Regions from separate parts of the Homo sapiens genome. Here region 1 is linked to region 2. The links come from fine-mapping of genetic effects on plasma protein levels. A gene starts in region 2. The other region holds a variant in brackets. All regions are shown on one strand. Distances are from middle to middle.

What was found. PIP is the posterior inclusion probability: the model's chance that the variant is causal. Protein levels are from antibody-based Olink assays in UK Biobank. Linkage for the fine-mapping came from a reference panel and not from the study's own genotypes, which makes the PIPs less certain.
Region 1: its variant is fine-mapped to the plasma level of the LRP11 protein (UK Biobank, PIP above 0.99).

Annotation. Positions count from the first base shown.
Region 1 is chr6:149,837,704-149,846,215 of GRCh38, forward strand. It overlaps LRP11 (LDL receptor related protein 11), which reads right to left. Exons shown (of 7, transcript NM_032832.6): 3 at 5,280-5,421. It overlaps RAET1E-LRP11 (RAET1E-LRP11 readthrough), which reads right to left. Exons shown (of 15, transcript NR_182438.1): 11 at 5,280-5,421. Among named protein-coding and RNA genes, the nearest start is that of RAET1E-AS1, 22 kb to the right of the region's middle. The variant C/T (reference allele first, on the strand shown) is at 3,572.
Region 2 is chr6:149,860,272-149,868,783 of GRCh38, forward strand. LRP11 (LDL receptor related protein 11) reads right to left here and starts at 4,088. Exons shown (of 7, transcript NM_032832.6): 1 at 3,137-4,088. The coding sequence starts at 3,749. RAET1E-LRP11 (RAET1E-LRP11 readthrough) reads right to left here. Exons shown (of 15, transcript NR_182438.1): 7 at 8,432-8,509; 8 at 4,945-5,073; 9 at 4,614-4,726. It overlaps RAET1E-AS1 (RAET1E antisense RNA 1), which reads left to right and starts at 3,227. Exons shown (of 2, transcript NR_045126.1): 1 at 3,227-4,111. RefSeq lists silencers at 3,093-3,242, 3,413-3,522, 3,663-3,722, 3,793-4,242 and an enhancer at 3,899-4,399.

The sequences.
Region 1 (8,512 bases), 23 kb before region 2:
TGCCTTGCCAGGAGGTGGCACACAGAAGCAACAGCCCAGGTCTCTCTCCACCCTTGATTCCCCGCCTCAGCTGTCTCCCTCTTCATTCATTCATTCATAGAAACCATTGTTGGAACCTCTTCTTCTGGCTGTCGATTGCTCTGCAGGAGGGCACCTAATACCATCCCATCCCCTGGATGGCAGTTGGCTATGTTTTAACAGAGATACCATTTATTTATTTATTTACTTACTTAAGACAAGGTCTCACTCTGTCGCCCAGGCTGAAGTGCAGTGGCACAATCTTGGCTCACTGCAACCTCCGCCTCCCGGGTTCAAGAGATTCTCTTGCCTCAGCCTCTGGAGTAGCTGGGACTACAGACATGCACCACCACACCCGGTTAATTTTTGTGTTTTTTGGTAGAGATGGGATTTCACCTTGTTGGCCAGGCTGGTCTCGAACTCCTGACCTCAACTGATCCACCTGCCTCGGCCTCCCAAAGTGCTGGGATTACAGGTGTTAGCCACCGTGCCTGGCCCAGAGGTACTATTTTACATATGCTATGTCTTACATTCTTGTCTCCTAAGTAATACTTTTCACTGAGATTAAGTTTTTACTATTGAATCCTATTTGTTGATTATCATAACGTCCCTGGTACTGTAGAGAATAAACAAAATTTAGTTATGGGCTGGCATGAATTTAGTTTCATGAAATAATGACATTGGCCAGGCGTGGTGGCTCACACCTGTAATCCCAGCACTTTGGGAAGCTAAGGCGGGTGGATCACAAGGTCAGGAGATCGAGACCATCCTGGCTAACACGGTGAAACCCCGTCTCTACTAAAAATACAAAAAATTAGCCGGGCTTGGTGGCATGCACCTGTAGTCCCAGGTACTCGGGAGGCTGAGACAGGAGAATCACTTGAGTCTGGGAGGCAGAGGTTGCAGTGAGCCAAGATTGTGACACTGCACTCCAGCCTGGGCGACAGAGGGAGACTCTGTCTCAAAAAAAAAAAAAAAGAAAGAAATAACGACATTTCTCCCTTCTGGAGTTCTTAGGAGCTTTTAATTTGCAGTGCAATTCATAGGAGCTACAAATATTTTCCTGAAATGCATTTTCCCTCTCCCTTGATTAAGCCAACTTTATTAGACTTAGCTAGAGGAGAACCGGGTGACTATCTGGTACTGGCAACATGGACTAAGGCACAAGGCTAGAAGCAGGTCACAGGAGCTCCACGGTTTTACAGGGACAGAGTGGACTAGACAATTCTCTCAGGAACATGGGGAAGTGGCAGATTATATGATATTCCTTCAAAACCAAATGGCTGAGCACAGTTCACAAACCCAAGTGAAATCTTGGACATACACTTGGTTTTTTTTTGTTTTTTTTTTTTTTGTAGATACAGGGTGTCACTATGTTGCCCAGGCTGGTCTTGAACTACTGGACTCAAGCAATCCTCCTGCCTCAGCCTCCCAAAGTGCTGAGATTACAGGTGTAAGCCACTGCGCCCGGCCTTGGACACATCTTTTATTGAAACGTGGTTAAATCAAGAGGTTGGAAAAGGAGTCTATCTTGGTGTGAGGCAATTTGAAGATATATTGATCCAGGAGGAAGAGAAGTTAAAGAAAATAAATGGTGATAGAAGCTCCTGCGGAAGAAGAGGAAGCAAAGAGCCTGCAGTTATGACTGAGAACATGGGCCTGAAGGAGAGTCAGCTCCGGCCACTGGGAAGAAGCAGGGAGCGGAGGTGGGGGACACGCTGGATATCAAGCAGGATACAGTTCCTCGTCAGGTTTCTTAAATTCATGGCATGAAAATCCCAGATATCTCAAGGTTTTATTTATTCTTTGGTGATTTTGGAGATGGATCCATATTTGTAAATTTTCTATCTATTTTTGGATTAGCAGCCTCCAAACTTTTTTGATCATGCATCCTGATCAATAATATATTGTTGAACAGGCATCTCCAGTTTATTTATTTATCTATTTATTTGAGACGGAGTCTCGCTGTGTCGCCCAGGCTGGAGTGCGGTGGCACAATCTCAGCTCACTGCAGCCTCCAGCTCCCAGGCTCAACTGACTCTCATGTCTCAGCCTCCTGAGTAGCTGGGATTACAGGCGTGTCCCACCACATCCGGCTAGTCCGGTTTATTTATAAATAATACGTGCATACTACTGTACTAACATGGGGTGTATCTTATAAAATATACTCAAATTTTAAGGAAAAAAATTAAAAATCAGCAAAAATATAAACTCTGCTGTCTTCTTTCTCACCCTAAAAATGTCTTGAACAACTCAGGGGCATCCTGTTTGGAGACTGCTGAGTTAGATCATGTTGGAAGAGCTTGCTGGCTTGCTGTTTGATCATTTTTCTAAGCATGAAAAATGTTCAAAATGTCAACTTATTAAAAATTGAACCAAGTTATGATCATATAAGCAGGGTACCTGCTCATCTGTCTACCTCAGCTAGTGTCACCCTTGGTTACCATAACATCTGGGTCATTCATTGCAAGACCAATACATACAATGCAGGGGAGGGAAACACTTGTCTCTTCTACCTCTATTTTCCAATGTCTCTCTGTGGTGTTTTATTAACTTTAATTCATAGCATGTTATTCCAATATAACCACTAAGTGATTCTAGACAGCAGTTAGTACTTCACCAATTCCTTTTTATTTTCCATATAAAGTTACCCACACAAGACCTATACTCAAGCGGCCACTGAGTAATCAAAAATGATTCACACACCACTCTCTGCTACTTCAAATACAGTTTATTATCATCTTGGAGAAGGGCCAGAAATTTACAGCTGGCAATTTACCTCTGGAGCCCGGAAAGCTGCCTGAGGAAATAAACCAGGACAAACAAGTGGCCGGTGAGGTGCTGGCCATCTGCTCATATCAGTGCAGGCCCTTCCTCCCTCCCAGGCACTTCAGCTGTACAAGAGCAATCCTTTTCTGATTTCTGTGGGGATGACAGGGTATCTGTGTCTTTTTCCCAAGAGTCCCTTCCTCCCAGAGTCAGCACTTGACTCAGACCCTGTCCAGGTGAGTCCCGGTACCCAGGGGGAAAGCCCTCTAGAGGGCGCCCAGATCTACAGAAGTGAGCCATCCCTGCTGGAGACAATGTCATGTCTCCACTGGTCCTGGTGGCCAAGGGACCAATGATGTTTTGAGTAGCTGCCCAGCAAAGGGACTCAACAATGTTTTGAGTAGCTGGCTGGCTCTCCTGTCCAGCTGCAATGAATTAGCAGGGCTGATGGAATCCGGGCTGAGCTGGACAGACTGTTTACTCGCTATCACTGGTGACCTCACAGTGCTGGCACGGGCTGGAGTTTGGTGCCTGTCCTGTCTGTGAATGGTTACCCTGCTTCCTTACAGTAAGCTTAACCCCTGGCTGGACAGGTTGTCATCAGCCAAACAAATTTTTAATGCCGCCTATGAAAATTATCAAAGTTGACAAGTCCTTAGGATCCTAAAATCTCTAACTCCTTAGAAAATTTCATTTCCAGTATGCATACTAACCTCAGTTTTTGATAGAAGGCTAGATCCAATATAGTACAAGTAAATCACAGTCCTGTTCCAACTCTTTTATC[C/T]TCATTCTGCACTCTGCTGGCTTAATTACCATCTGGATCCTGAGTATTGAATACTGAGAATTCAAAAATGTCACAGACTTACTGCAAGTTTACCAGAGTCAGGGACCACCAGTGCACCACTCTATCCCCAGTGCCTGGCAAGGACCCTGCACACTGCATACACTAAGAAAATACACGATGACCGAGTAACAGGATATTTAAATGTACAAGACCTTAGCACCTCTCCAGAAGTGAATTGTGTGTGTGGTGAGGGGTTCCCTCTACAATACTACAATATCTTTAGTGTCGCTAAGTTCCATGCAATGGATATTTTAAAAAATTTGATGACCTAATCTTTCTTAGACATGTAGACGTTGGGCTGGGCGCGGTGGTTCACGCCTGTAGTCTAAGTGCTTCGGGAGGCTGAGGCGGGTGGATCACCTGAGGTCAGGAATTCGAGACCAGGTTGGCCAACATGGTGAAACCCTGTCTCTACTAAAAATACAAAATTAGCAGGGCGTGGTGGTGCACACCTGTAGTCCCAGCTACTTGGGAGGCTGAGGCAGGAGAATCACTTGAACCCAGGAGGCAGAGGCTGCAGTGAGCCGAGACTGCACCACTGCACTCCCACTCCAGCCTAGGCAACAAGAGCAAAACTCCCTCTCAAAAAAAAAATGTAGATGTTTAGAAAAGTAAGAAACATAGATGAATGAAATAAGTTTTACATTGTTACATTGTACAACAGAATGTGAGAACCATCATATGTATTTAAAGTTATATTATTAATATAACTGCATCTGCGTAAAGTGTCTATGAAAATGTGTAGGTAGCACTTTCAAATTGATGGGTCCTTTGCGTATTTCAATTAATTTTAACCGTACTCCTTAGCTGCACTCTTTTTCTCTTTCTAAAATTTTTGAAGTGACTTATTATATCAGCAATTGATTACACCCAAGAGCCAAGTCTTTCTTCAATCCTGTGGTATGCCTTTTCCTTGTTTTTTTAATATGTATTTTTAATTGACAAAAGAGGAGAGTATATATTTATGAGGCACAATGTGATGTTTTGATATATGTTTGCATTGTGGAATGATTACATCAAGCTAACTGACATATCTATCATCTCCCCTACTTGTAATCTTTTTGTGATGACAACATTTAAAACCTACTGTTTTAGCAATTTTGAAACAGACAATACATTATCATTAACTATAGTCACCATGCTGTGCAACAGATCACCAGAACCTGTTCCTCCGGTCTCAGTGACACTTTGTACCCTTTGACCAGCGTCTCTCCTTTCCCAGTCCGTCCCCCGCACAGCCTCCAGTAACCGCCATTCCACTCTCTGCTTCCACGAGTTCAACTGGTTTCACTAAACTCCTTAGCTTCCCTCTTGGAACAGATGCAGCAAATGGACCATCCATCTGTAAACAAAGTCCTCTCCCAGAATAGCCAAGCAATTGTCTTTGATGAAGTCGAGTCAAGAGAAGCGGGAGCATCTCTTCTCATCCCCTGGAGTGCTTCCTCCACCCCAACCCAGTAGCATCGGCTAAGCCCAAAACAGAAGAGAGCCTGCTTTTGTTATTGTGTTTTTAGCAAAGACTCTCTCATTCAGCAATAACCAAAAATAAAATGGAAGAGCCCATGGAGCGCAGAGCCAGAGGACAAAGCGCCAACCCGACATTGCCTTCCACAAGCAGTGGGAAGCGAGGGAAGGACTTTCTTCTCACCTCCTGTGGAGTAGGCTGCGCGAAGCACTGTCACTGACACGTTGTCAGAGCTTCTCTGCCCGGCAGTGTCCGTCACGGTCAGCTGGAAGGTGTAGGTTCCCTCCTGTAGGTGGGACAGCTTCAGGGTTCCTGATTGAGGCACCTGCCACACAGATGGGACACATCACGTCGAGCAGCAGACTTGAGCTCCGAGCCCAACACCATCCTCAACCGAAAGTCCATGTCCTCAGAGCAGCCCCAGGACCTGCCTCTGCACTCCGGCCCGAGGCTGCTGAACTACATCACACACTGTTGGCAGCTGGCCCACCTTGAACTCATAAGTTCTAGTTTATTTAGGTGGCCAAGGCCTTGACTGACAATCCCTTCACTTGTCTGCAGCAGTTGCTGCTCCAAACCTGCACCTCATCCCCAGCCTCACGCTCAGGATCCAGGCCCTGCCGTCTCAGCAGGGGGACTCATCAGCTTCAGGGAGAAAATCAGGACCATGACTAGGGCTCCACCACCCACCTCCTCCTGGTACCCTACCTGTACCCACTGTCACTTCCTTCTGACAGCCAGCAGGGAGAAGCTGTCCCTCCTGTGTTCCAGGCCAACCCCTCCTTCTAGTCCTTGCCCCCTTTCTTTCTAGGACCTTTAGAACACTGACACATCGACTCATTTCTCTTTCAAATGGCTCTGCTATTACTATGCTCAAGTTTCTCTCATCCTAAGAAACAAACAAAACAACAAATAAAAAAAATTCCCTGAGCTCTAAGGGCTCACCAGCCACAGCCCCGCTTCCTTCCCATCTCCACTTGGCTCCCTGAAAGGCCTGGCTGTGCCGTGCTTGCTGTTTCTGTTTGCTCACTTCCCATTTAGTCTTCGCCCACCCAATGTAGCTGCTTTCCCCACCATCCCCCTGAAACAGTGCTGGCAAAACTCACTAACTGACCTAGCAAAAGTCTCCTAGGTGTCAAGACCAACAATACTATTTTTAAAAAATCCATGCTTGGTTGGGCACGGTGGCTCATGCCTGTAATCCCAGCACTTTGGGAGGCCAAGGCGGGCGGATGATGAGGTCAGGAGATGGAGACCATCTTGGCCAACATGGTGAGACCCCATCTCTACTAAAAATACAAAAATCAGCTGGGCATGGTGGCGTGCGCCTGTAGTCCCAGGTACTCGGGAGGCTGAGGCAGGAGAATCGCTTAAAACTGGGAGACAGAGGTTGTAGTGTGCCAAGATCACCCACTGCATTCCAATCTGCTGACAGAGCAAGACTCCATCTCAAAAAAAAAAAAAAAAATCCATGTTTAACTGGCCCTCTTACTGTATCTGGCCATGCTGGCCACTTTGGCTGTTTGAAAACCCCTGCTTCCTTGGCCTCCTTTTCTATCCAAGTTCCCCCAGTCATTCATTGCAGAAGCCCTCCTGGGCTTCAGTTCTGATCACTCCCTAACCCAGGGCTCCATGCTTGCCCTCTGCTCTCCCAACATTCACAGGCAGCTTGCTGAGCATGCTGGAACAACAGCTTCTGAAGCTCAGCTCTGTGGTAGGATTTTGGGAGTCACTGCTGGACAGTCAGCCTGAAGACTGTTTTTCCAGCTCTCCTAATGATTCTATTACCTATTTAATATTCTATTTAAAAAAATTCCTTTCTGCTTAAATGAACTAGTCTGGATATTGTCCTCTGCAGAATGCTGACCATTTGACATTCTATTACATTGATGCGTTAATAATGGACTTTGGAAATTACAGAGGATGGGATTGTACTATTATAAGAACCATCTGCTTGTTTTTAATTAGGAAATCCTAGAATTTGGACTGACTTAGGCTTAGAGGATTTGTCAACATTACATATACACACCCATAGGATGCTTTACAATCATTTAGATATAATGAGATTACCGTGGTTGTCATATGTTATGCCACTTTAGCTAAGGTATGGATTTCCAGGTCCCAGCCTCAGAGAGTCAGAGTCAGTGGGTTGGTCAGGAGAGCAGGACCCAGGATTCTACACTTACCAAGCCCACCCAGGTGACCCATGATCACACTGAAAGAAACACTGGTGCGTGGTTAAGAGCACAGAACCCGGTGTCCAATAGACATGGGTTTGAATGCCAGCCCTACCCCGTACCAGCTGGCTGATGATGTACAAGTCACTTAACGTCTCCAAACCTCATTGTTTTCATTTGTAAAATGGAAGTAATAATAGCACCTACCTGATGAGGATCAAATAAGGTAACTCATGTAAAAGAGCTGGGCCTGGCCCATAGTAAGCGCTTAAATATATCCACCATCTCCACTGGTTGATTCTTATCTCTAACTGAACATTACACAATGACTCTTTACAGACAAAGAAACGAATCCCCGTGAAGTGATTTTCATTCACTGCGACAGTGACAGAATTGAGACCTCGAGTTGTAAAACAGTCTACACTGGCCTACAAGCTGTCCACCACTTTCCCTGCAAAAGCCTTACTTTGGAGGGCTGGCAATGACGGCCACCTGCCTTTTGTTGTTTATTTCAAAGAGATGTTAAGCAGTGCTCACTGCCACGCTGTTACATTACCTTCAGGCCCAACTACACTGACAGAATGCCAAACGGGTCATTTACGTGAGTGCTAAAATACTAAGGGCAGCAGAGAGAGCTCTAATGACAATAAGAGAACTTCCAAAGAGCCTGGAGTGGGCTGCTGATGCTAGGAATCAGAACCCACTGAAATAAAAGTGGAAGTCAGTCTGAGACAGGACAAGACCAGATAATGTCTTAATCTGATCAGATAAGACTTGGGGCTCAGGTCTTATCTGTCGGATAAGACCAGGTCTTATCTGGTCAGATAAGATCAGAGAATCAGATAAATAAGAGTGAAAACAAGACTAGAACTCTGGTTTGAGACCTCAAGATTGCATTTAATGATCCTTCTATCTCACCTCCAATCCATCAGGAATTTCCATGGGGTCTGCCTTAAAAACACATCCAGAATTTGACCATGTATCACCCTGTCCGCGGGTACCACCTTGCTCTGACCCCAGCCTGTCTCTTGCCTGGGTCACTGCAGTGGCCAGGAGGCCTGAGCTCTGGGAAGACCAGGGTCTGCTGTCTCCTTTTTTCTGGAAACTTTTCCTCCCACCTTCATCCGCAGTGAGAGGAAGGTCAGTTATGGCCTCTTCCCATGGGCACCAGGCTGAACCAAGGCAAGACAAAGACAGGGCAAGGTGCAGGTGGTGAAGCTCAGAGCTGCATAAGTGGAG
Region 2 (8,512 bases):
TCTTCCCCGAGATACTGGACTTCAGGCTGAATATCCAGCAAAAACCACATAAAGGTTATCGTCCTTGAGTCCTTGGAGGTTATATTCCCTGCTCTTCTGGAATCCTAGCAGCTCTAGCTTCTACCTCTCCTCCCTCCCTCCCTCCCTCCTGCTGTTCTTCACTTTTTATCATGACATCCAGTCCCCCAACCCTCTAGTCATGGGCATGACCCAACCAGGTTCCTAGAACAGTATCATGTACATGCGTGCCACCTTCCTAACTCACAAAGCATGTCCCCCCTTGAACCTCACGACAGCCTGGGATGGAGGACAAGCAGACACCAAGTCCTGGGGGCATGAGCAGGGACTTGTTTGTGGAGACGCCAGGCCCCAGAACTTCAAGCACCCTCCTCTGTTCTACAGATTCTAGCAGGCAGGCTCAGTCACTACAAGACACCTCTCTCCAGCATCTCTCACTCATTCCTGCATCCTCCCGCCTTCCCTACCTCTACCCTCGCAGTCCCAGCCTAGTGATCCCTTTCTCAGCTTCTGCTGGTGCTGCTGGAGAAAGCATAGGAGTTCAGGCTCCACAACCCCATGCTGTGTGACCCTTGGGCAGGTTACTTTCGCTTGCCAAGCCTTGTATACACTAGGGATTATAACAGAACCTAGGCCTTTGTGTTGTTGTGAGGACAGAGTGAGTTCATGCGTGCAAAGGGCTGAGGACAGCACCTAACACCAAAGTCAACAAATGTGGGCATGAAAACAGGGCTGGTGTGTCCTGCTGTAAGTTCGTGCTATCCCATCACCATTTCTTCATGGTGCTTTCATCCACCTCAGATGGATCCAGTCACAGCTCCTCTCCAAGGGCTCTTCTAAACCATTTTCACATGCTCACAACCCAAAAACGAACAATTCAAGAAGGAAAAACTTAGTCTCTGAAGCATAAACAACTTCAACCTGTCAAGCATCTGAGCAGGGGACACACAGGACACTGGGGAACAATTTTTGACCTCCACGCAGAGAGAACAAATGAGCCTCTACAGGAACCTGAGCCGCACCTTCCGCGTTTCCATGTTGCTGGGACCTCAGGAAGTCTGAGCACAGCAGTGTTCTCCCAGAAATGAGGACCAGCACCGCGCTCGCCTATTTTCATCCCAAACATCTACAAAACAATTCCTAGACAAACTCCCCTGGGGAAAGGAAGGGCAACGAAGCAAGCAAGAGGAAAAACAACCCAGAAACTTCTCATAGTAACCTGAAGTTTTTGTTTCTGTTTCTGAGGCAGTGTCTCCCTCTGTTGCCCAGGCTGGAGTGCAGTGGCGCAATCTGTACTCACTGCGACCTCCACCACCACAGTTCAAGCGATTCTCCTGCCTCAGCCGCCCGAGGAGCTGGGATCATAGACAGGCGCCACCATGCCAGGATAATTTTTGTGTTTATTTCTTTTTAGCAAAGACGGGTTTTGTCATGTTGGCCAGGCTGGTCTCTAACTCTTGGCCTCAAGTGATTCACCCGCCTTGGCCTCCCAAAGTCCTGGGGTTAGTTATGAGCCACCGTGCCTGGCGTCTCCAAGTAATCTAAACTTTAAAATTTTTGTTCTATGGCATATTCTTTCCTTGTTTATTTTCCTTTTCAAAGGTTTCCTCTGGGTTTATAGGAAAGCTCACTTTGGCAATGTCAGTTTCTTCCAGGTAAGTAGTGAGAACACAGAGAAAAGACTTTGTTTCTTTGCTGCTGGGATATTTTGGTCTGTGTTTGGGCAGAGAGGATGTGTGTGCAACAGCCGTGGTGGGCCTCAGAGATGCTGATGGGGGGTCCAAGTGAAAGTGCTGCCTGCCTCCACTTCAGAAGGAAAGCTATGGAGTCCTTCCCAGTGTTTGCCTCAAGGCCAAGCAGTCGCAGGGTGACCCTTTGATATCTGCTCCCCTGACAAGGATTCTGAGCCTCATCTAAGGTAGAGGTGGGGAGGGAGGCAGGATGTGATGGACACAGATTTCCAGACTCTTTCAATGGATCCACAGGTTTTGGAGAATCCACACTTCCAAAGGGGCTGAGCTCCGCCCCCATCTTGCTGATATCATTCGTGCTATTATAAATCAAACAGCAACAGGGCATGATTAAACACACGGAGCCTGACCACACGTGGGCACAATCAAGGTCTCTTATTCCCTCCGTGACATTCATGTCCAACCACTACCATTTTTGTGCCTCCTGTATGTGTCCTGATTCTCTCATTCAGAGCATCTACAAAAAGTCAAACCGTCGAATCAGCATCATTTTTAGTCCTTAAGAAACACGCTTTAAAGTTTCCTATTTTCTTTTCCTTTTTTTTTTTTTTTTTTTAAGATGGAGTTTCGCTCTTGTTGCCCAGGCTGGAGTGCAATGGCGCGATCTCGGCTCACTGCAACCTCCGCCTCCTAGGTTCAAGCGATTCTCCTGCCTCAGCCTCCCGAATAGCTGGGATTACAGGCGCATGCCACCAGCTCTGGCTAATTTTTGTATTTTTAGTAGAGATGGGGTTTCATCACATTGGTCAGGCAGGTCTCAAACTCCTGACCTCAGGTGATCCGCCCTCCTCGGCCTCCCAAAGTGCTGGGATTACAGGCATAAGCCACCACGCCCGGCCTTAAAGTTTCTTATTTTCAACGAAAATCAAGTCCCCTCTTTTCACTTTTTATAAAAGGGACCAGAAGTTTTCCTCCCATTTTTGTATGATGAAAGCCACCGCAGGCAAAGTCAGGAGAGCCACGTCAAGAAAAAGGAGTGGGTGTTACGAGAAGCCCGGCATCTAATTAGATTTTGCTCTTGCAATTACTTAACACAAACCATGCCTTATACAACCCATGAGACTAAAACAAACTTTTTTCTCTCAGCATTTCTCCCCTTTTAAGTCATATTTCCACGAATCCTCTCAGATCAGCCTTTCTCTTCAAGCCTAGAAAAATTCCAGTAGCACGTCACCGCGCCCGCCCGCCCGCTTCTGCCAAACTACTGGGCTTCCTCTTCCCTAAGACAGAGAAACCCATGCCAGAAACTCTTCTGGGTGCCCGCGGCTAAAATAACTTGGCACGAGTGTGTTTCGCTTCCAACTTGGCGAGGGCGCTGCGGGTCTCGAGCGCTCTGGCCAAGGCCGGCCCCTCAGTCGCGCGCTTACCCTGCCGGGGCGAGGCGCGCGCGGTGGCCAGGGCGGCGCCGTCCGGCGCGCGGCTGAGGCTGTAGCTGCTGTAGCCGCTGTGCAGCGCGAACTTGCAGACGTTGCGGCCGCGCGCCGTGCAGTTGAAGAGGTAGCAGCCGAGCACGGCTGCCGGGGGCGCGGGGCGCCGGGGCAGCTCCACCACGGCCACGGAGCAGCGCGGCTCGGAGCAGCAGGCCGCCACGCATTGCCGCCAGCCCCGCACGGCCGCCGGCGCCCGCAGGAAGCTGGCACCCGCCGCCAGGGAGTCCTTGGTGCGGATGATGGCGTCAGGCATTGCGCTGTAGCCGCCGCTGCCCGGGCCCGGGCAGTCCTCCTGGGGGCCGCCGCCCGCGCGCAGCTCCAGCTCCAGCTCCTCCTGAGGCCGCTCCTGCTGCAGTTGCCGGCGGAACTCCTCCAGCAGCTGCTCCACGCCCGACAGCTGCGCGTGCAGTTCGGACAGCGGCGCCGCGGGCGGCAAGGCCGCACGGCCGCTTGGCAGCCACAGGCAGAGCAGTAGCAGCCCGCGCAGCGCCCCGTGACGCGGCGGTAGCCGGCGCTGCGAGCCCGCGCTCTCCTGGGCGACGGAGGCCATGGCGACGAGAGCCAAGGGCAGCGAGCCGAGGCGGGGCTGAGCGCGGGAGGAAGGCGGGGACGCGGGCGAGCGCGGGCCCTGGGCCCCTCCTGCGCGGCCGCGGCTGGCTCTAGGCCCCGGCCTCACAGCGCGGCGCCCCCGAACCCGGCTGCTCCCCCGAGGTCGCGGGCGCCGGCGGGAACCGCAGTAGCGGGAGACATAGCCGGCCCAGCCGGGCACCGCTCCTTGCCCTCGCCGGAGACTGCCCAGCGCCCTGCGCCTCTCCGCCCCGGCCTGCGGCGCGCTGGGTGGCGACGAGTCGGCCTCGGCGTTGATCAGCACCAGGTGTGTGCGAACAGTGGCCGCGGCGGGGTGGAGCCTTGGTGAGCCCCGCCCCCCCGCGCGGCCCCGCCCCCGCGCGTCTCGCGCCGGCTCCTCCAGGGCTGGGAGAGCAGGCCCCGGGGAGGGCAGCCTCAGAACAACTTTGCTCCCGCGCCGCTGCCCAGCTAGGGCAGGGTTCATGTCTGGGCCCAGCAGGCTTTAGCAACCAACCACACCTGCCCAGGGCGCCTGCCCACAGGGGCTTGGCATTCGGGGGAATGGGGGCAGTGGGAAGGGAGGGCCTGTCTTCAAATCCTCGTGACCCCCGGGACTACTCCAGAGAGGGGGCACGCGCACCTAGGACCACCGTAGCGCGTCATCAGTCCTTCACCTCCAGCGTCCCTGACTTTCCGCATCATGTTCCCAAGATGTGCTTGGGTAGTACAAAGTGGGGCGGGGTTGGGGTGGCGGAGTCAGGGCCGGGAGGGGTGGGGATGGGAAGTACTGAAAGATGTTCAGTCTGTTTAAAAACACAAAAATCAAGCCTGGTGAGGTGGTACTCGCCTGTAAGTCCTGAGGCTGAGTTGGGAGGATGGCTTGGACCCAGGAGTTCGAGACTGCAATGAGCTGTGATCACACCACTGTACTCCAGCCTGGGGGACAGAACAAGACCCTGTCTTTAAAAATAAAAACAAAACCCATAAATAGCAGTCGTCACATGCACTCAGATTTCCACAAATATAACAAAAAATCTGAACACAGCCAACATGGGGACCTGGGAGTAATACAGCCTGTGACAGAGAGGCCTCTAGCGGTTATATCACGTAAAATCTCGGGAGTTGTGCTTTAAATGACATAAGGAATAAGAAAATGTCCAACCCAGTGGGGGCTTCACCTTGGCGTTCTAGACTTCTGTGAGCAGCATCTGCATCTTGTTTGTTTCTGAATCAGTTTCTGTTGATTCATTTTTCTCCTGATTGTGGATCGCATTTTCTTGCTTTTTAGCCTGTCCGGAAATTTTTGCCTGGATGCGCACATTGTAAATAGAACACTGTTAAGTGTCTGTATTTTTTAGGATTGAAAGAATAAATAATTGGTGGGAAAATATCAGTCTCTGCTATGTGTTTATTATCTCCAGAGTTGACATTTAGGAACCCATTGCTTGCAGATCCAGATCAGAGTAGGAGGTAAAATTAAAAGGTAGCAATAGAAAAGAAAGAAAAAAGCTCAATGTTACTTGCCATTCCATCAAAGGGAGAAATTATAAAGTTTTTGCAGGGGTATATTTGAGTGATTTTTGAGGCTAAAAGAAATGGCCTCTTAGCTCTAAAGGCTGTGTCTGGACTGTACCACTTCGGCCTGGAGATTCTTCCTCATATGGCATACTCATCCCACACAACTGCAGTCATTGTAAGATGACCTTGAAGCAACATAATGCTTTTTATTTTTTATTTTTATTTTTTGCCATAGACCTTGGAGAGCTTGAGCAGGATTGTTATGAGGAGAAACTTTCACTAGTGATGAAAATGCTGACTGAGGGTATCATCAAACCCTCCAAGGACTAGTTGTTATATAAGTTATTAATATTAAAAATAACATGATAATATATAATATTAACTAAGAATTGTACATGATTTCAAAGTTTGCCAAACACTTTCACATACATGATTTTATGTGCCTTCACAGAGACTTTGACCACCTCACTCCTGCCTTTGGGACCGTGAAAGAGAAGTCAGTATAGAGTGAGCCCTAGCTCACATGTTCCGTGGTAGGGAAGTGGACAGGGGAGAGGACAGCATTTCTCAGGGGCATTCATTTCTAAATCCCTCCAGCACCATCAAAGATTTTCCTGCATCTGCAACTTTACAATAGGTCTTTTTGGGAGAAGTGGAAATTATTTAATGTTGTGTTTACCGTGAGCAGTGGTTATTTCTGGGCTGTGAGTTGCAAGTACTGAAGGGGAAATACTGACTTTTATAATTTATAAGACTTTGTTGAATTTTTTTTTTGCAATGAGCTTGTTGTAAATGATTTTCTATTTTTTAAAAATAAGTGTTGACATCTGCTTCAGCCAGGAGGGAGCAACAAGGACTGGACTTACTCTGTGACCTGAAATGAAAAATCTGTGAAAAAAATGTATGGAACAATGGTTTTCAGACATTGGGCAACAGGCAATGCAGGGCCCAAGAGAAGGGAGACAAAGGAAGTGAACATGCTGCTTGCTCCAGCTTACTGCCTGGAGAGGGTTTCCAAGCCGCAATGCAGACAGGCGAACCAAAAGAGACTCTGAGTTGGAAAATAGAGCTGAGAATTCAGGGAGGCCAGGGTGGCTAGAGTACCAGAGAGGAGAGAGTGCAACGGAAGGAGGGAGCTCTGGAGATCTGTGCAGGGTTCCTCTGAGTCTTCAGCAGAAGTTCGACCAGGTACATGCATGTGAGGAAACTTCCCAAGACAGAGAGGCAACCACTAGAAAAAAGCTGGCAGAAAAACTTCTGAGCTTGCATTGGCCAGGCAATAGTTCGTTCCCAACAGCCAGAGTGGAGAAACCTTGTGACAAGAGGCATGAGTTTGAGTAGGAAGGGAAGGGATTACAGAGAAGCACATGAAAACTTTTGCAGGTGATAGGTGTGTTCATTACCTTGATTGTGGTGATGGTTTCACTGGTGAATACATTGATCAAAGTTCATCAAATTGTGTATTTTAAGTGGGTATAGTCAATTATATGTTAATAAGGCTATTTTTTAAAAACGAAGTTTCATTGCACTGTGCATTGTGATTTATCTTCTTTTTCTAGTTCTCTTTTCAGTTTTTTTCAGAAATAAACTATCTTTGTTTTAAAAGCCTAAACATCAAAACCTTATCAATGGATAGAAGAATTTTTATGTGAGGATGAAAATGTCAGGAAGATGTGTTTCTGTTTTATAAGATAGATCATTAAGAGTAAGAGTGGATCAAATTGAGATTGGACTTCGTAGGTCAGTTTGTTGAATGTTGGAATGAGATAACCTGTGTCTTAGCTGGGCTGCTGTAACAGAATACCACAGACTGGGAGGCTTCTAAACAACAGAAATTTATTCCTCACAATTCTAGTGGCTGAGAAGTTCAAGATCATGGTGCTGGCAGACGCTGATATCTGGTGAGGGCCCACTTCCTGGTTCATAGACAGCAGTCTTCTCACTGAGTCCTCACCTTGTGGGAGGAGTTAGGGAGCTCTCTGGGATTTTTTTCTTTTCTTTTCTTTTCTTTTTTGAGACAAAGTCTCGCTCTGTTGCCCAGGCTGGAGTTCAGAGGCACAATCTCTGCTTACTGCAACCTCTGCCTCCTGGGTTCAAACGATTCTTCTGCCTCAGCCTCCTGAGTGGCTGGGATTACAGGCGCACACCACCACGCCTGGCTAATTTTTGTATTTTTAGTAGAGACTGGGTTTCACCATGTTGGTCAGGCTGGTCTCGAACTCATGACCTTATGATCTGGCTGCCTCAGCCTCCCAAAGTGCTATGATTTCAGGCATGAGGCACCGTGCCTGGCCTGGGATCTTTTTTATAAGAACACTAATCCCATTCATGAGGGCTCCACCTTCATGCCCTAATCATCTTCCAAATTCTCCACTGCAAACATCATCACATTAGGTTTCAACATAGGAATTTTGGGGGGTTACAAACATCCAATCTACAGCAACACCCTAGTGACATCGTTTTTTGTTGCCCTCCCCTCCCCTCTACTGCCCATCTAAGTACTTTTACAGGCATCGAATAAGTTAAGTCAGTGCATGTGAAGTGCTTAGAAGGGCATCTGACACATTATAGAAGTTCAATAAATGCTAGTTGTTGTTGTTATTACAACAGAAATGAAGGACCTTTCCTAAGATTAGAAGTCATGAAACCACTTGAAGCCTGAATCTCCTCTACAACATCCCAGCTGAGTGGCTGTTGCACTAAGATTCTTCCTTCTCCATACCCCTTTCATGGAATCTGCTCTGCTCACGTCCCTGGAAGGGGCAGCCCCAACCCCCAGGTGGCCACACCCCCTGTTCACTAGGGATGGAATCAATAATGAATGCCTGGCCCAAGCACAGCCAATCAGATACTCTCTCCAAGGAATGTAAAAACAGAATTGAGAAACAAACTGACTCAGCAAATCAACTCAACAAACTGACTCAACAAATTGAGTCAGGGAGGGAAGTGTAGCTGGGAAGCCAGGTGAGCTCCAGGGGACATGGAAGGGGATGATAGCAGAGAGAAGCTGTTCAGCAGAGGGGGACAAATGGAACCGTGAAAAGAGGAAATAGAGAACAGTGCATACATAGCCTTGAGAGAGGGAGGGAGTGAAGACAGGAGTTGCCTGACACTTTCTGGTCTCAAATCTCTCCCCTGAGCACCTACTTGGCCTTCTACCTGGAATTCCTCTCATGGAGTTCTTGCCTTGCAGCTCAGTGATCTAGGTTCATCCTAGTTAAATCTCTG